Linked DNA regions of Homo sapiens: region 2 is linked to region 1. Evidence: fine-mapped QTL for protein levels in blood plasma. A gene starts in region 1. The other region holds a variant in brackets. All regions are shown on one strand. Distances are from middle to middle.

What was found. PIP is the posterior inclusion probability: the model's chance that the variant is causal. The UK Biobank Pharma Proteomics Project read protein levels with antibody pairs (Olink). The fine-mapping took linkage between variants from a reference panel, not from the people measured, so its PIPs are less certain.
Region 2: its variant is fine-mapped to the plasma level of the EXTL1 protein (UK Biobank, PIP 0.92).

The regions. Positions count from the first base shown.
Region 1 is chr1:26,010,412-26,025,148 of GRCh38, forward strand. It overlaps EXTL1 (exostosin like glycosyltransferase 1), which reads left to right and starts at 11,364. Exons shown (of 11, transcript NM_004455.3): 1 at 11,364-13,014. The coding sequence starts at 12,236.
Region 2 is chr1:25,951,215-25,966,825 of GRCh38, forward strand. PAFAH2 (platelet activating factor acetylhydrolase 2) reads right to left here. Exons shown (of 11, transcript NM_000437.4): 11 at 8,553-10,869. The coding sequence ends at 10,775. It also overlaps the pseudogene RNU6-110P. Among named protein-coding and RNA genes, the nearest start is that of PAFAH2, 39 kb to the right of the region's middle. The variant C/T (reference allele first, on the strand shown) is at 6,399.

The sequences.
Region 1 (14,737 bases):
GAGTCGGAGTCTCGTTCTGTTGCCCCAGGCTGGAGTGCAGTGGCGTGATCTCGGCTCACTGCAAGCTCCGCCTCCCAGGTTCACGCCATTCTCCTGCCTCAGCCTCCCACGTAGCTGGGACTATAGGTGCCCGCCACCACGCCCGGCTAATTTTTTGAATTTTTTTAGTAGAGACGGGGTTTCACCATGTTAGCCAGGATGGTCTCGATCCCCTGACCTCGTGATCCTCCCACCTCGGCCTCCCAAAGTGCTGGGATTACAGGCGTGAGCCACCGTGCCCGGCAGTGGCGACTTTCTTTGTTTGGCTAAAGCCTTGGCGTTAGCGGGGATGGTGTCAGCGAGGTAATGGTATGGGTTTTATGATCAGTGAGAATGTGTGAAAGAATGCTCTAGTGGGGGTGAGCTGAAGCCAAACCCCATTCCCACTCTGTCTAGCTTCCTTGGAAAGGAACGGGCAAGGCAGGGTAAGCAGGCTTAGCATTTTCTAGTTTGAACACTGTCAGCTCAGGGGATAGGGGCTTTCCCTAGTAGTCTGGTACCTGGCTCTGGGGTGATGAGGGCCGGAGAATCGTGGCCCTGAGTGTGAGAGCCCAGTAGAGGAGGTGGCATGGGGTGTGAGCTCTTGATTGGTTGCTTTGCACTTGAAAGGCATATTCAAGGGCCCTTGGCTTGCTCTCTCTAGGAACTGGCTAGCTCTGGGAGGGGCAGTCTTTCCAGGGCAGGCCCCAGTGAGACAGAGCATTAAAATACAGGCAATAAAAAGACAATGGTTAATACAGTGTCAAAGCCAAGGAGAGAGTGGGCTTATATTTTACCAAGATCCTCTGGCTGCTGGGAGGAGAAAGTACTTTAGTGAGGCGAGAGGAAAGCAGGGACCAGAAGCCAATGCAATGATCCCGGGTGAGCAAGGCGGCTTAGCTTAGGGTGAGGGCAGGGGAGGTGGGAGCGAGGCTGGTTTCAGGGTTTCTTTGAAGATGAGGCTGATGACCATCCAACAAGGAGCCTTTCAGATTACAAGAAGCAACTTGAGGCTCATTCTATTCTTATTTCTGAGATGCACATTTATGCTTCCTCCCCTACTTATGAATTGTACTATCTCACTCTTCTTTTTTTTTTTTTTAGCTCTGTCACTCATGCTGGAGTGCAAGGGTACAATCACAGCTGACTGCAGCCTCAACTTCCCGGGCTCAAGTGATCCTGCCACCTCAGCCTCAAGCAGCTGGGACCACAGGCACGTGCCACCATGCCAGGCTAGGTTTTTGTTTTTTTTTTAAGAAATGAGGGGGCGTCTTGTGGCCGGGCGTGGTGGCTCACGCCTGTAATCCCAGCACTTTGGGAGGCCAAGGCGGGTGGATCACTTAGGGTCAGGAGTTCGAGACCAGCCTCAACATGGAGAAACCCCATCTCTACTAAAAATACAAAATTAGCTGAGCGTGGTGGTGCATGCCTGTAATCCCAGCTACTCGAGAGGCTGAGGCAGGAGAATTGCTTGAACCTGGGAGGCAGAGGTTGCAGTGAGCCGAGATCACACCATTGCACTCTAGCCTGGGCAACAAGAGAGAAACTCCGTCTAAAAAAAAAAAGGAGAGAAAAAGAAATGGGCGGGGGGGGGTCTCACTATGTTGCCCAGGTTGGTCTTGAACTCCTGGGCTCAAGTGACTATCTCACTCTTCTGATGCTAATGGCTTATTAAAGCAATTTAAGGAAATGACACCTCCAGGATTAGAGGTAAACATAAAGTGTCCAACATAGCGTCCAGTATATAGTAGGTACTGAACAAATCCACTGCTTTTTCTTCCATAAGGGAAAGTAGACTGTGGTTCAAGTATGGGCTTTACCCCACACTGGTTGGGTGACCCTAGACAAGTGACTTCTTTCTTTCTTTCTTTCTTTCTTTTTTTTTTGAGATGGAGTCTCACTCTTGTCACCCAGGCTGGAATGCAGTGGCGTGATCTTTGCTCACTGCAACCTCCGCCTCCTGGGTTCAAGCGATTCTCCTGCCTCAGCCTCCTGAGTAGCTGGGATTACAGGCGCCTGCCACCACGCCCGGTTAATTATTTTTTGTATTTTTAGTAGAGACAGGGTTTCACCATGTTAGCCAGGCTGGTCTCGAACTCCTGACCTCGTGATTCACCCGCCTTGGCCTCCCAAAGGGCCAGGATTACAGGCGTGAGCCACTGCCCCCAGCCTGGACAAGTGATTTCATCACCCTGCATCTCCCTTCCTTAATCTGAAAGCAGAGATAAGAGGGCCTCGCTCTTCTAGTAGTTGTGAAAGTTAAGTGAGGCAAAGTATGTAAGCCCCTTGCAGGGGCTCCACCAATTATAGCAGTAATTATCACATATTCAAGAATGGCAGTCTGGGGCCAGGTTTCCAAGATGGGGCCAAGACTCAGAGAGAAATGGGACAAAGCTCCCTCCATCTCCTCCTTGGTGCCCACCTCTGGGCCTGCTTCCCTCCAGGCCTGATCCCTGCCCTCAGCTCCCACCTCTGCTGGGCATCTTCTCAAAGAGCCAACAGACAGCTGTGTTCACTCTGCCAAGAGGCATCCCTGGGAAAGGAGGAGAGGAGAAAGAAATCTTCGTGTCTGGGCTTTGGAAAGCAGACTGTTAATTACCTGGGGTTGGCAGCAGCCTGCCTGTTAGGTAAACATTTGCCAAGCTGGCTCCATGCATTAACCCCTTGGTACCCAGAGCTGAGGTGTTCAGACGTGGGCTGCTCTAGAAGGGTCCAGAAACTAACTTGAGGGAGGCTGGGCACGGCTTCTGTAGCCTTCAAACAGGTCCAATTCAGGTGAGACATTCAGGAGGATGGCACAGAATGGCTTCAGAATCAGGGTTTGAAATTTACTTCACTTGGCTTGTCCCCAGACCCCTGTCCCAGGAATATGGGATGTTCCCCAGACCCCTGTCCCAGGAATACAGCCCCCAAAGAGGTGGCCAGGACTAAAAGCTCAACCTGCAGCTTGAGGTATGAACAAGGTCCTGTGTGTGAGGGGATGGACCAGGGATGCCTGGTCACCTTAATCCCCCCTGGCTTTCTCTGGATAACAGAAACTCACTCTAGAGGAAGCAGAGACCCACCTCCCAGAGGGAGAGGCCCTGGGTGGTGTTTAGGGGTGGCTGGTGTATGGTAGATGCACCTGACAGCAATAACTGAAGAAACAAGAGCTGCCACATGAAGGATGCTGAGGGAGGGTGCTATGTGGGGATGCCATATATATATATATATATATGTTTGTTTTGAGACAGAGTCTTGCCCTGTCACCCAGGCTGGAGTATAATGGCACCATCTCGGCTCACTGCAACCTCTGCCTCCCAGGTTCAAATGATTCTCCTGCCTCAGCCTCCAGAGTAGCTGGGATTACAGGCGCCTGCCACCCACCCAGCTAATTTTTGTATTTTTAGTAGAGATGAGGTTTCACCATGTTGGCCAGGCTGGTCTCAAACTCCTGACCTCATGATCCACCCACCTCGGCCTCCCAAAATGCTGGCACAGGCATGAGCCACTGTGCCTGGCCGAGGGTACTGTATAAACTGCATTTTTTTTGCAAGCGGTTGTGGTTCTCCCATCCAGCTTGCCACCATGGGACCATCCTGTATGTAAGCCTCCTCAAATAAATCCTATGTCTCATTTTCTGGCTTCATTTCTCTTCTGTAGCCTCTTGAAACTGGTGCCATCCCAGTGGAAGTCCATATGGGTCTGGGACAACATTAATTAGAGGTAGACTTGGTCTTAGGCAAGGTGGCATGAGGAGAAAGGTAAGGCAAGGTGGGCTCGGATTGACTATAATGATCAGTTGTGTATCTACCTGTACAGTTTGCTAAGCACTTTTCCACCCTTATCTCATCCAATGAGTCCCACCGTAAGCCTGTGAGGAGGGAATTAGCCTCCTGTGATGCAGTGGCTCAAATCCAGCCTGTTACTCACTGGCTGTGTGGCCTTGGGGCAATCACTTCACCTCTCTGAACCTCATCTGTAAAATCAGGGGAATAGCCATCTGCCCTGGCAGTTTTCTTGTGAGGCTTAAATGAAATTCTGGATCTAAAGAGCTCAGTAGTGCCTGACACACATTCAACTTCTCCCTTGAATTCCCTATTTTACAGAAGAGGAAAATGAGCCTCAGTGAGCTCCCAAATTATAATCCTCTAAATGTAAAAAAAAAAAAAAAATCATACAAATACACAGTAAGCACATGTCTCTGTTGTTTCACTTATTCATGAGGCAACTCTCAGGATGACAGAGCTGGTTCAGAGAACCCACTGATGGGAGTTGAGGAAGCACAGGGAATGCCAGAACAAGATTGCTAGTTAGATTCCAAATTGGGGAATGCTCTATAGTGCATGAACTAGAACCTTTAGGGGTGATCCCTATTGGTCAGAAGTCATTTGTATCACTATTGGACAAAAATCTGTTTTCTATACATTAGCACCATAGTTCTCAGACTTATTAAATGTTTGGGCCAGGCTGGGCGCGGTGGCTGACGCCTGTATTCCCAGCATTTGGGAGGCCGAGGTGGGTGGATCACTTGGGGTCAGGAGTTGAAGACCAGCCTGGCCAATGTGTTGAAACCCCGTCTCTACTAAAAATACAAAAATTAGCCGGGTGTAATGGTGGGCACCTGTAATCTCAGCTACTTGGGAGGCTGAGGCAGGAGAATTGCTTGAATCTGGGAGGCAGAGGTTGCAGTGAGCCGAGATCGCGCCATTGCACTCCAGCCTGTGCGACAAGAGCAAAACTCCATCTAAAACAAAAACAAAACAAAACAAAACAAAATGAAAAAAGTTTGTACATAGGGAGTAAAAAGTCAAACAAGGCCAGGCACAGTGGCTCATGCCTGTAATCCCAACACTTTGGGAGGGTGAGGCAGGAGTATGGCTTGGGCCCAGGTGTTAGAGACCAGCCTGGGCAACAAAGAATTCATCTCTAAAAAAGAAAAAAAAATTAGCCAGGTGTGGTGGTGTGGGCCTGTAGTCCTGGCTACTCAGGAAGTTGAGTTGGGAGGATCACTTGAGCCTGGGAGGTCAAGGCTGCAGTGAGCCATGATCACACAACTGCACTCCAGCCTGGGTGACAGAGCGAGACCCTGTCTCCAAAAAAAAAAAGGTCAAACAAAGTTACTTCCCTTTAGGGAGTCCTACAACACTTGAGGGCTTGTTACGCAATGCCCCAGTGGGAGGATTAAGGCCACACAGGCTCCTCATTGCTTCACTTCCAAGCTTTACAAAATTTTCCTTAACAAAGTGGTGTTGACAGGATGGGAAATGGAAGGATTGACCTTCCAAGCTCTGTCAGGATTACTTCTGAGTAAGAATTTCAAATCTTTTTGCTCTGAAAAGCCTAGTTCTGCTACCACTTCAGGTTGATGATAAGAAAATGAAAGCCCAAGGCTGGGTGCGGTGGCTCATGCCTGTAATCCCAGCACTTTGGGAGGCTGAGGTGGGTAGATCACCTGAGGTTGAGAGTTCAAGACCAGCCGGGTCAACATGGCAAAACCCTGTCTCTATTAAAAATACAAAAATTAGCCAGGCATGGTGGTGGTTGCCTGTAATCCCAGCCACTCAGGAGGCTGAGGTGGGAGAATCATTTGAACCTGGGAGGCAGAGGTTGCAGTGAGTGGAGATCGCGCCACTGCACCCCAGCCTGGGCGACACAGTGAGACTTTGTCTCAAAAAAAAAAAAAAAAAAAGAAAGAAAAGAAAAACCCGGGACCAGTTCTGGTGGCTCACATCCATAGTCCCGGTATAAGAGGCCGAGGTGAGAGGATCACTTGAGCCCAGGAGTTTGAGGCTGCTGTGAGCTGTGATTGTACCTCTGCGCTCCAGCCTGGGTGACAGAGTAGGACCCAGTTTCTAAAACAAATTTTAAAATGAAAAATAAATTTAAAAAATAAATAAAAAAGAAAATGAAGGCCCAGGAAAAGGGTGTGACTTGTCCAAGATCACATAGCCACGCCTAGAAGAGGAGCAGAGGCTAGAACCTACTTTCTCCAACCCCCGTCCCCAGGTCCCCTGGATGGCTTGCCTGGCCCTGCACCCTGTGGGGTCCAGGAACTGCTCTGCATCCTGGCGGGGGTTAGGGGGTTGTCTACAGGGCCAGACTGAAGTGTCTGCTGGAGTTGACTGATATTGCAGAGTCTTGGGACTCACCATGGCTTATAGTTATGTGCACTCAAGCGAGAGCTGTGACCTCAGAGCCTCTAGAAACCTTCAGCCTCCGCACTTGCTAATTCTGCTGTGAGACACTCAGGCAGCCCAGAGCTGGAGGAACAAACAGCCGTAGACAAGAAGCAGCAGATGGGTTTCCACGGTGATCATTTCCTGGAGTCCAAGTATCTTCTTTCTTCCTGAATGGAGGTGGAGATGCAGCAAGAGAAACAGGGAGGGGGAAGCCCAAGTCTTGGTCCCAATCCACCCAGATGGATACCTTGGCGCTCCTTGGGCAAGTCACCTCAACTCCCTGGGTCTGAGGAGGGACAGAAGGATGCCATTTGCTAGGCGCCTGCTCCACACCAGGCGTGGTATGCTGAATGCTGCACACTCACTACCTCATTTCTTTAATCTCCTTCCCAGTAAGCCTTTAGGGAAGGAGCTATTATTAGCATCCCCATTTTACTGATAGGAAACAGAAGCACAGAGAGGTGAAGTAACTTCACAGGAACACACGGCTTGTTAAGAGCACTTGAGCTGTGCTCTTAACCACAGCATTCTATAGTGCTGGGTCCCTTCCTCTGAGGGCCAGGGCCATTCCTTCTGCAGATTTCAGGCCCAGCCTGAAGCGGGAGGGAGGGAAGGAAGGCCAAGCAGGGTGCAGAGAGGAAACACTTCAGGTGAAACACGGTATTGTTAGCCCCCATTTTCTGCCTGGGCATCCTAGCCAATATGACACCTGGTGCTTCAGGCAGGAAGCACCCCCATGCCCAGGCAGCCCCCAGGCAGCTGTGACACCACCGCAGCTATGACACACGCTGCAGTGCTCAGAGCTCTGCGATGCCTCCAGAGGCATCTGTGTCCTCAAATTCACACAAAGGCCTGCTTCAATCCTGTCCTGTAAGAAACAAGTCCTCTGCCTCCTCCAGGAAGCCTCCTTCATTGCACCTGAGGCCAGGGCCTCTCCTCCCACTCAGTGCTGTCCTCTCCTTCCTGCTCTGGCTCATTCCCGTCGCCCAAAGTGATCATTTCTGTCCCACTGATCAGAGCCCAGGTATAGGATGGAGGCTCCTGGTGGCTTTGTTGAGCACTGAAAAGCCCGACGGAGGCCCCTGGCAGATCCCTGACCTCAGTCCTGCCTGCCAGGATGCCCTGGCCTTCTCTTCCTCCATCCAAGCCCCAGGGCAACCACGTGAATCGCAGGCTAGACAAGCCCAGATTCCAGCTGGCCTGAGAGCCTCCTCCACAGGGATGAAGGTAGGAGAAGGCTTATGTGTGTGCACAAATATGGGCATGGGCAGGAGCCAGCCAGCATCCCCAGGGCTGGGGTGGGAGACACATAGAGCTATTAATAGAACGGGATTAGGTATTCCTCCAAACCCCAAACCAGCTGGGCTTGGCTTCCTAGCTATCTCAACTTTGTCCGTCCCTCCATTCCTTCACTCATTCAACAAGTATTTGTTGGATACATATATCTTTAAAAAAATAAATAAATAAAGACAGACTTGCTATGTTGCCTAGGCTGATCTCAAACTCCTGGGCTCAAGAGATCCTCCCGCTGACCTTCCAACCTTAGCTACCTGAGTAGCTGGGACTACAGGTGCATGCCATCATGCCTGGCTTATTTATTTATTTATATTTGTTTTATATTTTTAAAGATGGGGTCTTCCTCTTGTGCCCAGGCTAGAATGCAGTGGCACCCATAGCTCATTACAGCCTAAAATTCCTGGGATCAAGCAATCCTCCTACCTCATCCTCCCGAGCAGCTGGGATTACAGGCATGAGCCACCAGCTCCAGTTAAAAAAAATTTTTTTTTTGTAGAGACAAAGACTCGCTATGTTGCCCAGGCTGGTCTCAAACTCTTGGGCTCAAGGGATCCTCCTGCCTAAGCCTCCCAAAATGCTAGGATCACAGGTGTGAACCACTGTGCCCAACCTGGACATTTATTTTATTATTGCTGGGGATAAGAAGGATATATGAGAACCAGACTTCTGATCTTCTTCCCTAAAACTGTTCCCCTCAGTTTTCCCCATCTCAGTTAATGACAACTCCACCCTGTCTGTGGTGCAGGCCGGACCTCACATCTAATCTATCAGCAAATCTGTCAATTTGCCCTGGCTTAAAATATACCCAGAATCCAACTACTTCTATTCATCCCACCCCTGCCATCCTGGTCCCAGCCACCGCAGTGGCTCACTTGCACTACAGCCTGGCCCAGCAGGGCTCCCTGCTGCTGTCCCTGACCCTACAGCCGGCCTCTTCCCTGCAGCCTGAGTCGTGCTGTGAAAACAAGGTCAGAGCGTACCAATCACGTGGCAGGCACACTCCTGCCTCAGAACCTGTGGCCCGGCTGTTCCTCTTGCCTGGAGCGATTTTCCCCTAGAAATATACTTCTTCACTCACTCCCTCACTTTCTCAGAAATTTACACAAATGCCAGAGTTTTTTTTGTTTTGTTTTGTTTTGTTTTTTGAGGCAGACTCGCTCTGTCACCCAGGCTGGAGTGTAGTGGCGTAATCTCGGCTCACTGCAATCTCCACCTCCCAGCTTCAAGCAATTCTCATGTCTCAACCTCCCAAGTAGCTGGGATTACAGGCGTGCGCCACCACGCCGGGCTAGTTTTTGTATTTTTAGTAGAGATGGGGTCTTGCTTTGTTGGCCAGGCTGGTCTCGAACTCTTGGCCTCAAGTGATCTGCACACTTTGGCCTCCCAAATTGCTGAGATGACAGATGTGAGCCACTGCACCAGGCCACAAATGCCAGCTTTTTTTTTTTTTTGAGATGGAGTTTCGCTCTGTCCCCCAGGCTGGAGTGCAGTGGCACGATCTCGGCTCACTGCAAGCTCTGCCTCCCGGGTTCAGGCCATTCTCCTGCCTCAGCCTCCCGAGTAGCTGGGACTACAGGCGCCTGCAACCACGCCCGGCTAATTTTTTGTATTTTTAGTAGAGACGGGGTTTCACCGTGTTAGCCAGGACGGTCTCAATCTCCTGACCTTGTAATCCGCCTGCCTCAGCCTCCCAAATGCCAGCTTTTTTATGAGGCCTCCCGTATTTCTGTCTAACATTGCAACCCATCCCATCTCCCCAGCAGTTATTGTCAAATAGTATGAGATATTTATTCATTTTGTTTCTTGCCTATTTCCCCTCCCTGGAGGGTAAGTTCCAGGAGGGCAAGATTTTTTCTGCTTTGCTCACTGCCCTTAAGACCTGCCTGGCCCCACAATAGGGGTTCAGTAAATAGCTGTTGAATGAATGAGAGACTTGTGGGGTGACAGACCAGTCAAAAAGCTGTCCCTGCCTCCAGTCCTGCCATTTCCTGTCTGATCCCACACAGACAGCCACAGCGATTTTTCTAAAAACCACATTGCTGTCTTTCAGGTCTTAGGGTAGGTATCACTTCCTCGGAAGCCTTCTCTGGCCCCCTGGGCTAGGCAGCCCCTCTGTGTACTCTCAGGGTCCCCTCCCCTCATTCTGTAATTGCCTGCAATTGCCTAGTTCTATAATTGTCTTCTCCAGGACAGCGAGCTCTGGAGGGTGGGGACGCGTCTGTCTCCCTCCCTGTTGGGAGCTGGAATGGTGCAGCGGATATAGGAGCACACTACCTGGGTCCAAGTCCTGGCTAAGCCGTGAGAATTCAGGCAAATTACTTAAGCTCCCTCGGCCTCAGTTTTCCCAACTGTAAAATGTGGATCATCACAGTTTCTCCCTCCTAGGGTTGGGGAAAGGATGAAACAAGCTGATACAAAAGAGGGATGCTTGGCACGCTGTAAGTGCAATACGAGTGTCAGCTATGATTACTCTTACTCAGGGTTGTGTTCCTGGCCTAGCTCAGAACCTGGCCCATATTCAACACTCATAAGTGTTTGTTAGATGAATGGATGACTGTGTATGGGGATAGAGGGATGAAGGAATGACATGAGGACCTAGACGGGGGCTCTAACCCAGCCTGCGGAGCATTGGAGAAGCTTCTTGTGGGGAGGGAGCTTTCAGCTGACTCCTGCAGGATGAGGAGTTGGCTGGGCACAGTGAAAGGGGGGGCGTGCGAAGCAGCCAGTGGCCTTTGTGGATGCCTCTCAGTGTGGGAGGACTGAGTTATGCAGGAACTGCAGTTCATCACCGAGTGGCTGAGCCATTAGTGCCAAGAGGCAAGTGTCCCCTTTGTGGGCCATTTTTAGGACTCTCACACTGGCTGCTCACTGAGGGCAAAACATCCCACGGTGGCTCCCTGGTCTGATCAGCAGCCCTCCAAGATCAAGGGGAGGCACGCAGGGGAAAGGAGGCCACCACTTGTTGAGGGACCTCAGGGGACAGGCCTGCGTCAACCTGGCAACCCATTCCTGGCTGACATTATGCCCATCCCAGAGATAAGGGGACAGAGGCCCAACACCCCCGAGGCAGTCAGGGGAAGAGGCAGAACCCACTCAAGTCTGTCCACTCCCTGTGCCTTCCCTCATCAGCCCAGAACTCCTCATGGCCAGAGTGTGTCTCCCCCGTCACCCCAGAGATTCCTCAGTGGCTGACATCACCCACTCCTGACTCCCCTCACAGGGCACTGACCGGGGAAATCCCTCCATGGGGCCTGGACTATGGAAGAGTCAAGTGCAGGAAGAACTTTCCATAAGGACTGGAGCAAAAGGCTGGGAATTGGAGGAGATTGGGGGTGGGGCTGCTGAAGGAGGAGAGACCAATCCTGGGGACAGTTGGGGGCACCTTACCCAATTCCTCCACCCCCGCCCCTTAACTCCTCACTTGTCTCACCTGTTGACCTTCTCATGTGCCGATTCAGAGATTCCTCACACTCAGGCTCTGACCTCCACTGACTCTGATGGCCCACAGCAGGTGCAGGGTCTAGTTTTTCTCCAGCCACAGGGCCCACAGCTGGGGTGACCAACGACCAGGAGCTCAGGATTGAAATCCCCACCCTGCCACTTCTTAGCTGGGTCACCTTAGGAAGAGTTCATCCCCTCTCTGAGCTTTCCTCATCTGTAAGAAATGACAGGTAAATCTCTGCCTTGGAGGGTGGCTGGAGGACTGAGAGACAGAGGCTGTGATAACTCATGGCCAGCTGTGAGTTGCAGTACTTGCTGGTTGGATTAGCAATTGAGGAAACTGGTTTGGAAGGGGTTAAATGGAGACCCTGCCTCCCAGCCAGGAGCGAATCAGGGCTGGGAGGGGAGGAGCCAGGCTGCTGCTAAGGAAAGAGATCAGGATGGGCCAGTTGCCGACTGGAGAGGGATGGGAGGAGATACCATAGGGTTTGGGGGGCTTGGCACAGCGGCCCTGGCCTCTGCACTGTGATAGCTCCAAGCCAGATGGTGCAAGGCAGCTGCTGGGCTGCGGGGAAGAGGGGCTGCACTTCCTGAGCTGGTGCAGCGGCAGAGTGGATAAGGATCAGGACCCCGAGCCCTCCTGGCCCTCCAAGGCAGGGGGACACCGGCTGCACCCAGGCTGTGACCTCAGCTGACGCCGATGATCCACATGGGATGCAGGGTCTAATTTTAGCTCCAGCCACAGGGGCCACAGCCCAGAAGCGTCTGCCAGCGGGCACAGGGGCAGCCAGGGCTGCTCAGGCAAGGGGAGGAGTGGGAAGACCAGCCCAGCTCCCTCCAGCCTGTCCCTGGCCAAGCCGCCTCCTGTGGGAGCTCTGACTGGTCCCCATGGCCTGGCAGACAGCCCTCCTCTCAGTTGAGGGCAAGGTCAAGGGGTGCAGCCAGGAGGGCAGGGGGACACGGCCCTGCATTCTGGACAGGGGTTGCGTCAGCCAGAGCAGTGCCCAGGGGCAGGGGTCCCTGCTGGGAGGGAAAAGGCTGGCTTGGTTGTCCAAAGGCCGAGAAGGCAGAGTCCTGAGAGCAGGGGGGCCAGGCCAGCAAGCTGGGTCCCACCTGGCCTCCTCCTGCCTGGCTGGTGACTCACTATCTGACCTTAGACAGGCGGCCTGGTCTCGATGGGCCTCAGTCTTCCCATCTGTACAATGACAGCACAGGACTAGCAGGTCGGTCCCAGCTCTGGTCTCCCGCCCCAGGCCCTGCTCTTCCTGCTTGCTGGCAGAGGCCTCCCAGCTTCCCTAGCCCTGACTGTGGGTGGCCACATGCAGTCGTGGAGGAGAAGAAAGTCCCTGTGGCTGGCACTGTCAGCCTCCTGGCTCCTGCTTGTCCTGCTGGGAGGCTTCTCCCTTCTCCGCCTGGCATTGCCTCCCAGACCTCGGCCCGGGGCTTCCCAAGGCTGGCCCCGCTGGCTGGATGCAGAGCTCCTGCAGAGCTTCTCCCAGCCTGGAGAGCTCCCAGAAGATGCCGTTTCACCTCCTCAAGCCCCTCATGGTGGCAGCTGCAACTGGGAATCTTGCTTTGATACCTCAAAGTGCAGGGGCGATGGCCTTAAGGTATTCGTGTACCCAGCGGTTGGAACCATCTCTGAGACTCATCGCAGGATCCTGGCTTCCATTGAGGGCTCTCGCTTCTACACATTCAGCCCTGCTGGGGCCTGCCTCCTCCTCCTCCTCAGCCTGGACGCCCAGACTGGAGAGTGCAGCTCAATGCCTCTGCAATGGAACAGGGGCAGGAACCATCTGGTCCTCCGTCTCCACCCGGCTCCCTGCCCCAGGACCTTCCAGCTGGGACAGGCTATGGTGGCTGAGGCCAGCCCCACGGTGGACTCCTTCCGGCCCGGCTTTGATGTGGCCCTCCCTTTTCTCCCTGAAGCCCACCCGTTGCGAGGTGGGGCTCCTGGCCAGCTGCGGCAACACAGCCCCCAGCCCGGGGTAGCCCTGCTAGCCCTGGAAGAGGAGAGGGGTGGGTGGCGCACAGCAGACACTGGCTCCTCTGCCTGCCCCTGGGATGGGCGCTGTGAGCAAGACCCTGGACCTGGGCAGTAAGTGAACCTTTTGCCTTGGGGGCTGGATGGGAGGGGGCTGGAATAGACGCAAGCCCAAAAACGAGGGTAGAAGGCAGGACTGAGATGGGAGAACCAGGTAGTCCTGGTAGACTTAGGCCTCAGCTGCAGCAGCAGGAGGGAGCCAGGTTAGATGGCAGAGAGCACTTCCATTAAGATGGGGACTTGAAGCAAGGGTTGTCTAAGGTAGGTTTTGGAATTCTCCCCTGGGGATCTTTCAAAACATAAAACACGACTCATTCCAAACCTCCTACCCTAATATTTTTTTTCCCCACATACAGTTGTATAGTGCTTACTCTGTGCTAAGCACTTATATAAATAATGATTATAATAAAATATGCTAGTTGTTAGCATTTAAGTGTTTGTGTACCAGGCACGAAAGCTCAGACAGGTTAAGTAATTTTTCTCAGGCCACCCAGCCGGAAAGAGCCAGTATTTTGATCCAGAATTGCCTATCTCCAAAGCCTTCAGTATGAGAATTCTGAGTTTTAAGTAAAAGTTTATGATCAACCTCATCAAATGCCTCAGAAGGGCCTCACAGTCACAGCTGGAAGCTGCTCCCGTGTCTAATTTTGGGGATTAACCTCTCAAAGAAACAGCCTTTGGTTATAGCAAATATGACGCAGGTCAGATCTAAAGAATTTCCTGCCAGTGAGAGGCCCTTGACATATATAAGGGACTGGGGGCCTGTGGGATGTGGTGAGCTTGTACAGAAACTCTTTCCGCCTGGGCTAGTTGGGGGTGATGCGCCTCAGGTGATAGTTATCCCCTAAGCACTCTAACCCTCTGTGTCCCCAGCAGGCCAGCAGCCTCTAAAGGCTAGCTGGGCAGGCAAGAATGGGAGTCCCTCTGAGGTTGTCCAGGGCCCCGGTGGCAGAGGGTTCCTTCTGTATCCCACCATCTCCCAGGGCCTACCTGAGTCGGGAACTGTCACTCTGGTATCCTCCTTTTGCTCCTCCCTCAGGTCTCTCTCCCTATTCTCTGCTCCAACAACATCAACTATTCTGAGCTCCACTCCCTCCCAGGAATTCTTGCCTCTGCTTGGGGCTCCCGGGACTTCTCTCGGCCAAAGGGCTCTCGTGGGAATGGGATCCTTCCACTTCCTGAAGGTACATGGAGGCCTCCAGGGAGCCCTCACAGCCAGGAGTAAGAATGGACTTGTCCCGGTCAGCCCCAGGGTCCTTTTGCTGGGACCTATCCCTAGTGGTCTCCAAGGTGGGAGCCTGAAAAGTCAGGGATCTCCCCCAAGCCCCTGCAGCTCAGCGCTCAGGCAGAAGCTCACTTTGAGCGACAAGGCTCTCCCTTTGCCATGCCCTCCCTCACTTTTCTGATGAGGCACTCAGGTACTCTTGCTTGCAGGAAGTTCTTTTTTCAGCTGACTTTAGTTACCGCTAAGCACAGTTCATTATTGATGAACCTGAAAGTGATTTCAGTCTGAACTTCTTTGAGAAACTGGAAGTTAGGGAGCTGCACACAGCAGGTAGGTGCTCATTAAATGTTTACTAATGGATCTGAAATTGGCCAGAGCCGGCCACGGTTTTCTAATTAGCGTGGGTCACCCTCTGAGTAGCATTTTTGATAAGTTTTATTTCCCAGGGGCGAAGCTTGGCAGCCTTGGACTCTGACCTTCAAGTTTTGTCTTTGGCCTCCGCCTCCCTGAAGGTGACAGGACTTGTCATCTCTGGAGTGGTTTGAGCCTCAG
Region 2 (15,611 bases), 59 kb before region 1:
AAAGAAAAAAAAATAGACTAGAAGGCTTATACCACAGCAAGGATTCTCAAACTTCACTGTGTATCAGGAAGTAATATTCCTGGAACTTACACACATGTACACACCTGGGCCCCCCTCCAGACCTTCTGAATCAGCATCTCTGGATCTCTGGAGTCATGGCCAGGGTATCTGTATCTTTATTTTTATTTATTTATTTATTTATTTGAGATGGAGTCTTGCTCTGTTGCCCAGGCTGAAGTGTAGTGGCATGATCTTGGCTCACTGTAACCTCTATCTCCCGGGGTCAAGTGATTCTACTGCCTCAGCCTCCTGAGTAGCTGGGATTACAGGCATGCACCACCACACCCGGCTAATTTTTATATTTTTAGTAGTATTTTTAGGGGTTTTACCATGTTGGCCAGGCTGGTTTCAAACTCCTAACCTCAAATGATCCACTCGTCTCGGCCTCCTAAAATGCTGGGATTACAGGCATGAGCCACTGTGCCTGGCCTGGATTTTTATGCAGTTCCCAGGTGATTTGGATGTGCATCTAGAGCTGAGAATCGCTAATCTACAATATTTAGGCTAGAGATTAAAAAAATTTTTTCTGCCAGCTGGTTGGCTCTGTGGTTTACAGGGTATGGTACTAATGGGTTTGTCCCCTGAATTGTTCACTTTATACAAGGTGTATGAATGAATGGAGCCCGTTTACTGCTAGAAAAACAATTCAAGGTGTACATTTTACTGTCAGAACTCAGTCTGGTCTTCAATTAAAACGGCTCTTGGACCTAACTGCTTAGTGCATTTAGCTGGATATCAAGTTGTGGGCTACTTTAGCCTACCTAGGGTCAAGAATCTCTTTCCTATTGTGAGATAGTAATGACCAGGAGTTAAGAGCACTGACTCTGGGCCCGGTGCAGTGGCTCACACCTGTAATCCCAGCACTTTGGGAGGCCAAGGTGGACAGATCACTTGAGGCCAGGAGTTTGAGACCAGCCTGCCCAATATGGTGAAACCCCATCTCTACTAAAAATACAAAAATTAGCTGGGTGTGGTGGAGTGCACCTGTAGTCCCAGCTACTTGGGAGGCTGAGGCATGAGAATTGCTTGAACCCAGGAGGTGGAGTTTGCAGTGAGCCGAGATTGCACCACTGCACTCCAGCCTGGGCGACAGGGTGAGACTGTCTCAAAAAAATAAACCCCCCAAAACCCCACTGACTTTGGAGCCCAACCATTTAGGTTCAAATACTGGTTCTAGCACTTACATGCTGGGTGACTTGGCTGGGCTAGCAAATCTTTCTGAGTCTCGCCTTCCTGATCTACAAAATGAGGCTAACACGCACTACCTTACTGGAATGTTGTTAGGATTAAATGATACAATGCAGAGTATCTGGCCAGAATAAGTGCTCATTAAGAAGTAGCACATTAGGACAAAACCAAAATATGGCACTTTTTATAATTAACAGCAACGTATATGTGTCCGGTGCTTTGACATCTTACATTAAGCCCATCCCTAATCCTACCCAAAAAATTCTGAGGTGGGCAAGGTAGATGCCAGTGTCCCCATTTTGCAGAAAAAGAAACAAAGGCTCGGAAAGATTCACTGGCTCCAGATCAAACAAAAGAAAAATGTCAGAGTCTGGATTCAAACCTGGGTGTGATTCCATGAAGATGAATAATTATATATACACACTTGGCAGGCTGAGCATCTCGGGGCCATCTGGCTTAACAGGCTGAAAAGAACTGTATTTCTGAGCAGCTTCTTTTTTTAGATGAAAGCAAGATGGGAAAAATAAGCTGGCAAACTGCTTTCCCTCATTTTCAACACTGGTGTGATTTGTGCTCAGTTCTGCACTCCTTCTAACTCCCAAATGCTACTTGTCCGTGCAACTTAGAAGTTCGCTCCAGCTGCTTTGGCTGTGCTGCTGCTGGCTCTGCCCTGGCCCCACAGCTGGGACCTGGGAAAACCAAAAGAAAAGGAAGCAGAGGCAGCTGGAGATGTCAGAAGGCTGGGTGAGCTCCAGCTGTTCCCAAGTCTGTCTGGGGAACGAGGGCTGATGGGGGGCTGGGGCCAAGGATCCCTGTCCCCCATGTCAGTCAACAGGAGGATGCTCTTTCCTGTACAACAGATGGGCCCTGCTCCTGGAATAATGTGATAAAGGGCAATACTAAATCTGGCACAGACTGGATTTCTCTTGGGGAACAGGAGGCCAAGAGATCAAATGTTAGTCAAATTTAATCAAGAAGGCTTTCATGGAAGAGGTGGGATTAGAAATAAGCCTAAAGCATTAGCAAGATTTGGATGTGCAGAAAGGAGGTGGGGATGAGGTGGGGAAGCCCTGCAGGCAAGAAAATCCTCAGGAGAGCTGGACGCGGTGGCTCACGCCTGTAATCCCAGCACTTTGGGAGGCCGAGGTAGGCGGATCACTTGAGGTCAGGAGTTTGAGATCAGCCTCGCCAACATGGTGAAACCCCATCTCTACTAAAATACAAAAATTGGCCAGGCGTGTTGGTGCGTGCCTGTAATTCCAGCTACTTGGGAGGCTGAGGCAGGAGAATCACTTGAACCTGAGAGGTGGAGGTTGCAGTGAGCTGAGATTGCGCCACCGCACTCCAGCCTGGGTGACGTTTTGTTTGGGGAATGTGTGGGCAAATGAAGGGGACTGTGGGAAGAGTGCACATTAAGAAGTAGAAGGCAGGAGAGGAGAGGCGAGGTCAGAAAGAATGAAGAAGTGTAGTGCGATTCTACAGGAAAGGGGAAGCCAGGCGCGGTGGCTCATGCCTGTAATCCCAGCACTTTGGGAGGCCAAGGTGGGTGGATCACGTGAGGTCAGATGCTTGAGACCATCCTGGCCAACATGATGAAATTCCATCTCTACTAAAAATGCAAAAATTAGCCAGGTGTGGTGGCACATGCCTGTAATCTCAGCTACTTGGGAGGCTGAGGCAGGAGCACTGCTTGAACCTGGAAGGCGGAGGTTGCAGTGAGCCGAGATCGTGCTATTGCACTCCAGCCTGGGCGACAGAGGAAGACTCCATCACAAAAAAAAAAAAAAAAAAAAAAAAAAAAAAAAAGAAAGAAAAAAGAAAAAAAAGAAACAGAAAAAAAGGAAAGGGGATTCCTGGAAATCCATGACACCTCAATAACAGAGATACTGAATGCCAGAACTGAAGGGGCCTTAGAGACCGGCCAATTCAACAACCACCAACCCATGTCCCAATTTACAGATAAGGAAACTAAAGCTGAAGTTGAGAGAGGAAAACCACACACACACGCACACACACATGCACATGCACACGTACACATCACAGAGCAAACAGGTGATAGAGGCAAGAACCCAGGGCTCCAGACAACGAGTCCGTCCTGTTACCATTAGACCATCTTACCAGGCTGGTATTTTCATGCAAAAGCAGCATTTCAGGCAGATCTGGCAGCAGAACGCCGGGGGGAAAGAGAGATTACAGTCCAGAAGACTGCGAAATGAGCCCAGGGGTGAGCTGGCAGGACAGCAGGCTCAAACAAGATGGAAAGGATGGGCTGAGTGGGAGAACCACCAAGAGTGAAGAAACAGGAGGACTTGGCAGGAAACCGTGAGGGAGGGAGCTGTGCAGAGCCAATTCACCGGCCATCTGCAGGCCTGGGGGTTTCCCCTGAGGAGGTCACCATGCATTCTGACCCCCTCACCTGGTGTCAAAGGCAGCAGACAAAAATTAAGACAACTAGCCTCTGCTACAAAGCCCCTGCCCCCAGCTCCTCCCTTTGGCCAACCTCTCCACAGATCTGTTTCTCCCTTTTGACATTTTAGGATCTTCAATTTGCAGCTGAGGCATAGATGTGTTTGGATGATCTGGTGTGAAATTAAAACCCAAACCAGAACCTAAGAGTGTGGACTCTTCCAGGTGGAAAAGCAAGCAAGGCTAGAACTAGGGTGGGGATTTTGATTTTTCATGTGAGGAGCAGGGATAGCAGAGCAAAGAGAATGGGAAACTGTCTCTCCACCTAGCTCCACCCTGACATGAGGACACAATGGTAGTAGGTGGCTGGCAGTTAGGAGGGTCCACTCGAGGAAGGTAACCGTGAGACTGTAGAAGCTGGAATAACAATTTAGACCAATGGTCAGGCATGGTGGCTCACGCCTATAATCCTAGCACTTTGGGAGGCTGCAGTGGGAGGATCACTTATCCCAAGAGTTTGAGACCAGCTTGGGCAACATAGGGAGACCCTGTTTTTACAAAAAAAAAATGTTTTTTAATTAGCCAAGCATGGTGGTGCATGCCTGTAATCCCAGCTACTCAGGAGACTGAGGCAGGAGGATAGCTTGAGCCTGGGAATTCAAGGCTTCAGTGAGCTGTGAACCCACTACTGCACTCCAGCCTGGGTGACAGCAAGACTCAGACAAGAAGGAAGGAAGGAAGAAAGGAAGGAAGGAAGGAAGGAAAGAAGGAAGGAAGGAAGAGAGGGAGGGAGGGAGGGAGGAAGGGAAGAGGGAGGGAAAGAAAGAGAAAGAAAGGAGAAAAAGAGAAAGAGAAAAAGGAAGGAAGGAGGGAAGGAAGAAGGAGGAAGGAAGGAAGGAAAAGAGTGAAAGGAAAGGAAAGGAAAGAAGGAAGGAAGGAAGGAAGGAAAGAAAGAAAGAAAGAAAAAAGAAAGAAAAAGAAAAAAAGCACTTAGACCAAGATCATTGGGGCCATTTAGTTCAAGGGCCCATTGTACCTAACCTTACAGCTATGTAAGGAGGCCCAAATGAAACAAGACTGGTAATAGCTAATGTTTATTAAGTCCTTAATCTAGCCACCATGTTAAGTGCTTTACATGCATTATTTCATTTAATTATCACAACCACCTTATGAGTTAAATACTATTAGAATCCCCATTTCACAAATAAGAACATTAAAGGCCATAGAAGTGAATGAGTTAGCATAAAGTCACAGGGCTAATAGTGTTGGAGCTGTCTGATTTCAAAGACTGTGTTCTTAGTCCCTGAACTGCTCACACCTGTAACCCCAGCCCTTTGGGAGGCTGAGGCAGGAGGATCATTGGAGCCCAGGAGTTTGAGACCAGCCCTGGCAACACAGACAGACCACTGTCTTTACAAAAAATAAACAAAAAATTAGCCAGGTGTGGTGATATGTACCTGTAGTCCCAGCTACTTGGAAGGCTGAGGTGGGAGGATTGCTTAAGGCTGGGAGGTTGAGGGTACAGTGAGCAGTGATCATGCCACTGCACTCCAGCCTGGGCAACAGAGTGACACTGTCTCAAAAACAAACAAAAAACAAACAACACCCCACACCCCACCCATCAACCAAGTACCTGACCCAGTTTCCGGTGAAGCCATTTTTCTCCCTCAACCCATTTCTCAATAATGCTGAGGATATCACTGAAACTCAACACAGGTCATGTAGAAGTTGCTGAAGATTTTGGTATTTTTTAGTTAATTGATCATGAGATTAATACATTCCCTATATCCTGAGAGTTTGAAGAAATGGGAGAAACTGCAAAGCCAAGTATGTATATTAGGGTTAACAGCACAGTAATTAAGAGCTCAGATTTTATTAGCCGGGCATGGTGGTGTGCGCTTGCGGTCCCAGCTACTCAGGAGGCTGAGGCAGGCAGATGGATTAAGGCTGGGAGGTCGAGGCTGCAGTGAGCTGTGATTGCGCCACTGCGCTCCAGCCTGGGTGACAGGAGACCATCTCAAGAAAACGAAACAAAACAAAAACCCTTGGCTGGGCATGGTGGCTCATGGCTGTAATCCCAGCACTTTGGGAGGCCGAGGCGGGTGGATCCCCTGAGGTCAGGAGTTCAAGACCAGCCTGACCAACATGGTGAAACCCCATCTCTAGTAAAAATACAAGAATTAGCTGGGCGTGGTGGCACATGCCTATAATCCCAGCAACTCTGGAGGCTGAGGCAGGAGAATCGCTTGAACCCTGAAGGCAGAGGTTGCAGTGAGCCGAGATCATGCCATTGCACTCCAGCCTGGGCAACAAGAGCAAAACTCCATCTCAAAAAAAAAAAAAAACCCTCAAACTTTGATGCCTATGTCCCAGCTTTGCCAAATTCTTGCTGAGAGCCTGATGAAATCGCTTCTTGAAGCCTGTTTCCTCCTACATAAAATGAGGCCAATGCCACCTGAGCTGGTGGGGTTACCATGAGAAGTAAGTGAAATGATGCATGTCAGCCCAGAGCACAGTCCTGACACACAGCGACAATCATCCTCAGCACCCTCATTGTCACTGTGCCCTGCAGCTATGGCCAGGGACAGCTGCCCTCTGCACCTGGCTATGATGGGATAGAAAGTGAGCTTCCTAATGAGGATGAGTCCCAAACATACAGTATGGCCTCTCCTGTCCCTCTGTCACTTTGTGAGCCTAGGGATAAGTGGTGCTCCAGAAAAAAAGGGGGTAGATGAAGGTCCCCA[C/T]AAGGTCAAGACACGGAGTTGGAATCCATCATTTGACATTTCAAGAGCCCAATAGAATTTTTGAGGAAGGACAAGAGGGGCAGCTGTGTCAGAATGCACAGTGGAAGGGGCTCGGGGATTGCATTAGGGACACAGCAAGAATCCAACCAGCCTTAGTCTGAAGTCCAGGAAGTGGAAGGGATATTTACTTACCTTCCTTCCTAACTGGCTTGCCATCCCATGCACAGAAACTTCACATTATACCACTAGGAGGCCTCCATAGGCACAGAGTCTTGCAGCGGGATGGGGAATGAGAAGATGCCAAAGAAACCCAAGACAGGCCGGGCGCGGTGGCTCATGCCTGTAATCCCAGCACTTTGGGAGGCCGAGGCGGGTGGATCACGAGGTCAGGAGATCAAGACCATCCTGGCTAACACAGTGAAACCCCGCCTCTACTAAAAAAAAAAAAAAAAAGAAAAGAAACCCAAGACATCCTCTTTCTGGAAAAGATTCACTAGGATGCAATTTATCAGCACATGTCAGTTATCATCAGGATTTCCTTGCTTATCTAAAGGCCATTTATGAAGTATCCTTCAGGCCCCTGGAAGCTAACCAAAAACCAGAATGAGAGACCAAAGGCCTTGTGATACCCCTTCTGGAGCAGTCAGAGGATTACGAAGCCCATGCGCTAAAGGTGACATACTTTAGCTGCAAGGGAGTCCCTAAAACCCTTGCTCACTGACTGCCTTGTTTTCCCTTAGACAGAGTTTTAAATAATGTGGCTGATTTATCAGTCCATTGCGCATCGAAAGTCATAAACTTGAAGTGGCCAGGGAGGGCTGCTAGGGGCTGGTGCGTTGAAGAGCGATGGTTGCAGCCTGACCACAAATGAGACAACACCAACTCTGAACAGCAACGCAGCACAGGGGGCAACCCCATGCAAGCCAAACAGCTTTCTGCACCTTCCTAGATCAGAGGACACCACTTCTCTGACATGAGACCTGGTCACAAATATTTTGGCTTTCTTGGGATGTTAGGAATGGCCACAGGACGTGCTTTGGCTTATGACACATGAATAGAAATAACGAGAGTCACTCCCGGGCAGAAGCTCTCAGAGCTAGCGGGTGATTCATCAGGCTTTCTTCCTGTTCCACCATGGTGAACAGCAACACTTTCTGATAATGGCAGCTCTACCAGCCTGGATCCTAGAGTGAGGATAAAAATGATGCAGAGCAGAGCCTGCAGCCGATCAAAGAGCACAAGTGGCATGGGCAAGAAATAAACTTTTGTTGCTTTTGGGATTGCCTGTTACCACCATACAACCTAGTCTATCCTGACTGGAACATCCTAAAAGGTTGAACGAGGTCAGCTCACTTTGATTAAAAAGTGTGTGTATTATCTTTTTGGTAGATTACCATTCAAAATAATCAATATTATATTTTGCTGCCTCTAGGATAATTTTCAATTATATGGAAAATTCACATACTCTAGTGTTTGCTGGATAAATGAGTGATTACCAGAACATGAATTGAATGAAGGAAAGGGATCTAGTTTCTGGAACACTCCCTTCACTAGGGAGGCTCCAGGTCTCTTGTTCATGGTTTTGTAAAATTTACCTGTGTTATTTATGGAGCTAAGGTAGAACCTGGGTCTCACATGCTGCTACTGCCAGAACCGGCCTCTCAGCATTTGTGGAATCAGCACAAGGGTGGCGTATGCTCAGGATTGGCCTACGGCTGGTTCTGCAAGTGCTGAGGGTCTCTGGTGCCCATGTGGTAGTTGGAAGGCCCCATTATATATCTGTCTGTGCTCTCATAGAAGGAAATCTATGGGCTCGGCACGGTGGCTCATGCCTGTAATCCCAGCCCTTTGGGAGGCCGAGGCAGGTGGATCATCTGAGGTCAGGAGTTTGCGACCAGCCTGACCAATATGGTGAAACCCCATCTCTACTAAAAAAATACAAAAATTAGCTGGGTGTGGTGGCGTGCACTTGTAGTCCCAGCTTCTCAGAAGGCTGAGACAGGAGAATTGCTTGAATCTGGGAGGCGAAGGTTGCAGTAAGCCGAGATCATGCTACTGCACTCCAGTCTGGGTGACAGAGTGAGACTGCATCTCAAAAAAAAAAGACAGAAATCTATGATGTGTTCTTGAGTAAAAGAGCAAGCCAACAACTTCTTCAGAATATATAGTCTTTTTAAACATACATGGCACATTTACAACATTGATCTCATACTAGGCCAACAACCAAGTTTCAACAAATTTTGAAGGATGGAAACCATATGGGTCATTTTCTCTGACCACAAAGCAATCAAGCTAGAAAAGAAACTATAACTAGAAAAATCTCATGTTTGGAAGGTAGGAAATATACTTTTAAGTAACCCATGGGTTATACATCCTCTCACTTAATCCTCCTAACTATTCATAACGCAGACCCTCATTTTAGAAACGCAGGAGCTGAGATAAGAAAGAGAATACCATTTGCTCAAATTTACCCAGTTGGCAGTGGTGGAGCCAGGACTCAAAACCAGGCTCTGTAACTTTAGAGCCCAGGGCTTTAATGATACCCTTCTTATGCTATGTCTCATGGGAATTCAAAGATCCTCCCTCACAGCCTCAACGATCTGCTGTTTCACCTCTTAGAATGGCCAGTCACTGACAGGTGGAGATCTAGGCCCAGCTTGCTCTGGTGGCCCTGACCATGGGCCATTGTGTAGAGATGCATTTCCCTTTTGCTCTTACCTACTTGGACTGAGGCACGAAGTCTTGAGTAGTGGAGAAGAGAGTTTCAGTTTGATGCCCCCAAATAGCTTTGAACTGGATCCCTAAGAAGACTTCCTTCCTTTTAAAGTTTTTTTCCCACATGGGCCCAAGTAGTAAGCGAACACAGAAGAAAGACAGAAGGAAGTCAATTCCAGATGGCTCTCCATCTTGCTCTACTGCAGATTAAACAGAAAATTCCAACATAACATTAAGCAAACAAGAGTATTAATATCATTCATATTATAAACAGAACAGAATGGAAATTCAGTCTGTATCTGACTTAAATTTGGGGCAAGGGCCTCAGAGCCAGAAAACAGACAATAAAAGCACCCTGATTCTGAGCAAGTTGGAGGTTTATAATATTTGAGGCAAGAAAAAATGACCAAGGTACTCCTAGGCCTCTCTGGGAGTGGCCTTCTGCGTTTTTAAATTTTATTTATTTTAAATTTTTCTTTTTCTTTTTTTTTTTTTTAAGACAGAGTCTTGCTCTGTCACCCAGGCTGGAGTGCAGTGGCGCGATCTTGACTCACTGCAACCTCCGCCTCCTAGGTTCAAGTGATTCTTCTGCTTCAGCCTCCTGAGTAGCTGGGATTATAGGCGCCTGCCATTACGCCAGGCTAATTTTTTGTATTTTTAGTAGAGACGGGGTTTCACCATGTTGGCCAGGTGGTCTTGAACTCCTGGCCTTAAGTGATCTGCCTGCCTTGGCCTCCCAAAGTGTTGGGATTACAGGCATGAGCCACCACGCCCAGCCTTCTTTATTTTTAAGATGGGGTCTCGCTCTACTGTCCAGGCTGCAGCTGAGTTTTAGCTGACCAAACTACTTCTCTGTTGTGGCAAAGGCCTGTGCAAATGGCCATTTAACACTGTTGTTCTGTCATCTTCCCCATCTCAACCTGCTTTTGTTGTTTCCTATCAAGATACACTTAGCAAAACCCCCAAAGACATCCAGAGCTTCTGAGGTACCTCTGTGTACCTCAGTTTTTCTCCCTGTGCTGTGAGAGCCATGCTGTCTGCCACTCTGTGGGCTCACAAGTATAACTTACTACTGTAAGTATAAGTAGTACTATGTTCCATACAATGAGAAGACTTGGAAATAAATAGAAAATGTGATCACGGCTCACACCTAGAAATTTACATAAAGTGCTCAGACTTCAACAAGTGGCCCTGGGGAGGGAGAAGGCTGAGAGGTAGGAAGAGATGGTGTTGGGCTGGGCTAGAGTCTCTGAAGGTAGGGATTTTCATTCTGTCCTTTGGCTTCATCTCTTCCACTGAAGCAGCAGCACTGGCCGGGGGTAAGGGAATGAGCTTCGCTGGGCTGAGTCTTCACATCCAGGCCTCACAGTGCTCAGCCCGGGGCCTGGGTCTCCCCCAGTCCCACTCTACTGCTTGTTCCCCACTCCATCAAGGTCCCAGAAAGTCTGTTTGTCAATCAGCAAGGGATCCCAGTCCCAAAGTGATTTTAAGATCAAATCTAAGATCAAAGTACCCAGTTATCCAAGCAGCAGTGTGATTACACCTTTCAATCTGTGAAAAGGGGTCACGTTGATCACTTCTTGATAGGAGCTCATGGGTGCCCTTGGGTAGCTCCCAAATGAAAACTTGGCTGAAGTGACTTTACAAATGGCCAGTTGTGCCTACAGGCTGGACAGATGGTGGGGGGCCCCTGGGGTGAGCGACGGTCCAATGCCTTCAATAAGGTTGTTCCATTGATTATAGTCTTCTTTCAGGTCTGAAAAGGAAAAAAACAGGAACATTAGGCAAATCATTGTGAGGTTTGGTCAAAGAGTAGCTGACATGCATTGAAGGGGTCATCCTAGAGAGAGGAGCGCCTGGGATACCAAAAGGACTGGTTTTGGTGGGGTTGTGTGGTGGTGGCGGTAACGATAACTATCATTTATTCAGTGCCTTTATAAATGACTTACATAATCCATAACAATTCAATAACGATAATAATAACAGAGGGTAACATTTATTGATGGAGAATTCATTCTAAGGATTGTACTAAATGCTTTACATTCATGGTTTCATTTAATTTTCACCATATCCCTATGAACTAAGTATTAATACTAATCTTATTATGTAATTCAGGAAACTGAGGATCAGGGAAGCTACCTGAGTTGCCCAAGGTCATTAGAGCTATTAAGTGGTAGAGACAGAATTCAAATCCAAGTCAGAAAGGCAGAGAGGGCTGGGCATGGTGGCTTATGCCTGTAACCCTAGTGCTTTGGGAGGCTGAGGCAAGAGGATCACTTGAGGCTAGGAGTTCCTAGACCAGCCTGGGCAACGTAGCAAGACCTCAACTCTACAAAAAAATTAAGAAATTAGCTAGGTATGGTGGTGTGTGCCTGAAGTCCTACCTACTCAGGAGGCCAAGACTGGAGGATTGCTTGAGGCAAGGAGTTGGCGGCAGTGAGCTGTGATAATGCCACTGCACTCCAACCTGGGCAACAGCAAGACCATGTCTCAGAAAAAAAAAAAAAAAGGCTGAGAAAATGAAAAGTCTAGTTCCAGGCTCAAGGAGGTTACTAGGCAAAAAGCAGTATCTGACAGCTCAGCCTGTGGGTGCAAATCCAGGACCACTTCAGTGAAGGGCAGGAGCAAGAGGACAGCAACATCATGGAGCAGCGAAACTCCAGGAATGACTCAAGAAGGGGCCCTGAGCTCACAGCCAATAGGGGTAACTACACGGCAAGAACAGGCACAAAGGGTCCAAGCCCTCAGGCTGAGGGAGCAGGGCAAGCTAAGCAGATGAATGGTGTCCTTCCTCAAAACAAACAGACTCTGGGACAGAAGGCAGGGACCACTCTCATGCATTTTTGGATTCCCAGTGCCCTGCCAGGAACCTGGCACGGAATAGGTCCTCAATGTATAAGTACTACATAGTCATTAATTCAAAAAACAATAAGCACATCCACTATGTGCCACACTCTGTTCTTTGAGCTAAAAATATATCCACAAACAAAACAGATGGAAACTGCTGTCCTCACAGAGCTCATCATCTAGTGGCAGAGACAAACAATAAACATAATAACTATATAGGATGTGAAAAGGGGAGAGGTGCCATGGAAAAAAAATAGAGCCCGTTAAGGGAAGCACTGGTGGTGGCCAGGGGTTGGAGTGAAGGGAGAAAGGAAGGACCCAATGTTTTTTGTTTGTTTGTTTTTTCTTTGAGATGGAGTCTTGCTCTGTCACCAGGCTGGAGTGCAGTGGTCAATCTCGGCTCAACGCAACCTCTGCCTCCCAGGTTCAAGTGATTCTCCTGCCTCAGCCTCCTAAGTAGCTGGGACTACAGGCATGCACCACCACACCCAGCTAATTTTGTATTTTTAGTAGAGACGAGGTTTCACCATGTCGGCCAGGACGGTCTCGATCTCTTGACCTTGTGATCCGCCCGCCTCGGCCTCCCAAAGTGTTGGGATTACAGGCGTGAGCCACGGTGCCTGGCCAGGCCAATGTTTTAAAAAGGGTGGTCAGGGTGGGCCTCACTGAGAAGGTGAGATTTGAGGCCAGGCTTGAAGGAAGTGGGAGTGTGCCACGAGACTATCTGAGAGGAATGTTCTAGACAGAGGGAGGAGCAGTGCAAAGGCCCTAAGGCTGCAGCGTGCCTGGCGCGTTCGAGGCTCATGTGGTGAGAGTGAAGTGAGCCAAGGGAAGAACAGCAGGGGAGGAGGCCAGGAGGGACTGGAGGGCCACATGACATATACCTGGCAGGATAATCGAGTCTGGCTTTGGCTCTTAGGGAGACTGGGAGCCACTGGAGAATTCGGAGCAGAAGAGTGAGAAGATCTCACTAAATTCCTAAAAGGATCACTCTGGCTGCTCTATGAAGAAAAGACTCTTCAGTGCTCGCTTTGGCAGCACATATACTAAAACTGGAACAATACAGAGATGAGCACGGCGCTTGCACAAGGATGACATGCAAATTCGTTAAGCTTTCCATATTTTTAAAGAGAAATAAATAATAATACCATGATTGAGGAAGCCAAAATAATAAATAAATAAATAAAATGACTCTTCAGTAAAGTTTCAGGATACAAAGTTGGTGTACAAAAATCAGTGGTGGTGATTTTTCTGGGTGCACTGGCTCATGCCTATAACACCAGCACTTTGGGAGGCTGAGGCAGGAGGATCGCCTGAGCCCAGGAGTTTGAGACCAGCCCAGGCAATAAAGTGAGACACTGTCTCTATAAAAAACAAATGAAGAAACAAACAAAAATATCAGTAGCATTTCTATACACCAATAACAATCAAGCTGAGAACCCAATCATAAACTCAATCCCATTTGTAATGGCCACCAAAACAAAAACAAAAACAAGAACAAAACAAAACAAAACCTAGGAATACATTTAACCAAGGAGGTGAAAGATCTCTACAAAGAGAGCTACAAAATACTGATGAAAGAAATTGTAGATGACACAAACAAATGGAAAAAACATCCCACACTCATGGAATGGAAGAATCAATGTTGTTAAAAATGACCATAATGCTCAAAGCAATTTACAGATTCAACGCAATTCCTATTAAACTACCAACGCCATTTTTTACAGAATTAGAAAAAAAGTCCTCAAATTCATATGGAACCAAAAAAGAGCCTGTCAAAGCAACCTTAAGCAAAAAGAACAAAGCTGGAGGCATCACATGACCCAACTTCAAATTATACTACAAGGTTATAGTAACCAAAAGAGCATGTTACTTGTATAAACACAGAAAAATAGATAAATGAAACAGAATAGAGAACCCAGAAATAAAGCCCCCATACCTACAACCAACTGATCTTTGTCAAAGTCAACAAAAATATATACATGGGGAAAAGATACCCTATTCAACAAATGGTGCTGGAAAAATTGGATAGCCATATGAAGAAGAATGAAACAGGACCCATATCTCTCAGCATATATAAAAATTAACTCAAGATGGATTAAAGACTTAAACATAAGACTTGAAACTATAAAAATCCTAGAAGAAAAACTCTTCTGGACATTGGCTCACGCAAAGAATTCGTCCTTAAAAGCAAATGCAACAAAACCAAAAACAGACAAATGAGACTGAATTAAACTAAAAAGCTTATGTACCACAAAAGAAACAATCAACAGAGTAAATAGACAACCTACAGAATGGAAGAAAATATTTCTGAACTATATATCCAACAAAGGGCTAATATCCAGAATCTATAAGGAAAGGCTGGGCATGGTGGCTCACGCCTGTAACGCCAGCACTTTGGGAGGCCAAGGCTGGTGGATCACTTGAGGTCAGGAGTTTGAGACCAGTCTGGCTAACATGGTGAAACCCTGTCTCTATTAAAAATACGAAAAAATCAGCCAGGCATGGTGGCGGGCACCTGTAATCCCAGCTACTCAGGAGGCTGAGGTAGGAGAATCACTTGAACCTGGGGGGCAGAGGTCACAGTAAGCCGAGATCACACCACTGCACTCCAGCCTGGGTGACAGAGCAAGACTTTGTCTCAAAAAAAAAAAAAAAAAAAAAAAAAAAGAATCTACAAGGAACTCAAACAACTCAACAAGAAAAAAAAAAACACATAATCCCATTAAAAAGTAGGCATTCTGCAGAAACTGGACTCAAAAAAAGAAAAAAGTGGACAAAGGACATGAATAGACATTTTTTTCAAAAGAAGACATACAAGTGTCCCACAAACATATTTAAAAAAAAAAGTTCAACATCACTAACCGTCAGAGAAATGCAAATTAAAACCACAATGAGATACTACACCAGTCAGAATGGCCATTATTAAAAAGTCCAGAAACAATAAATGCTGGTGAGGATGCAGAGAAAGGGAACACTTATGCACCGTTGGTAGGAATGTAAATTAGTACAACTTCCATGGAAAACGGTATGGAGATCCCTCAGAGAACTAAAAATAGAACTACCATTTGATCCAGCAATCCCACTACTGGCTATCTACCCAAAGGGAAAGAAATCATTACACCAGAAAGACACCTGCACACATATGTTTATCACAGCACTAGCCACAATAGCAAAGATATGGAATCACCCTAAGTGCCCATCAACAGAAGATCTGATAAAGAAAATGTGGTGTACAGATATACCATGGGATACTACTCAGTTATAAAAAAAGAACGAAATCACGTTTTGCAGAACCGCAGGCCATTATCCCAGGTGAAATAACTCAGAAACAGAAAGTCAAATACCGAATGCTGTACCGAATGCTGTCACTTATAAGTGGGAGCTAAATGATGGGTACACATGGACATACAGAGTAGAAAAATAAGACACTGGAGACTCCAAAAGGTGGGCAGGTAGGAGAGGGGTGAGGGCTGAAAAATTACCTACTGGATACAATGTTCACTATTCGGGTGATGGGTACACTAAAAGCCCAGACTTTACCACGTGCAATATAGCTGTGTAAGAAAATTGCACTTGTACCCCCTACATCTATACAAATAAACCCAGCACTTTGGGAGGCCAACACAGGCAGATCACAAGGTCAGGAGA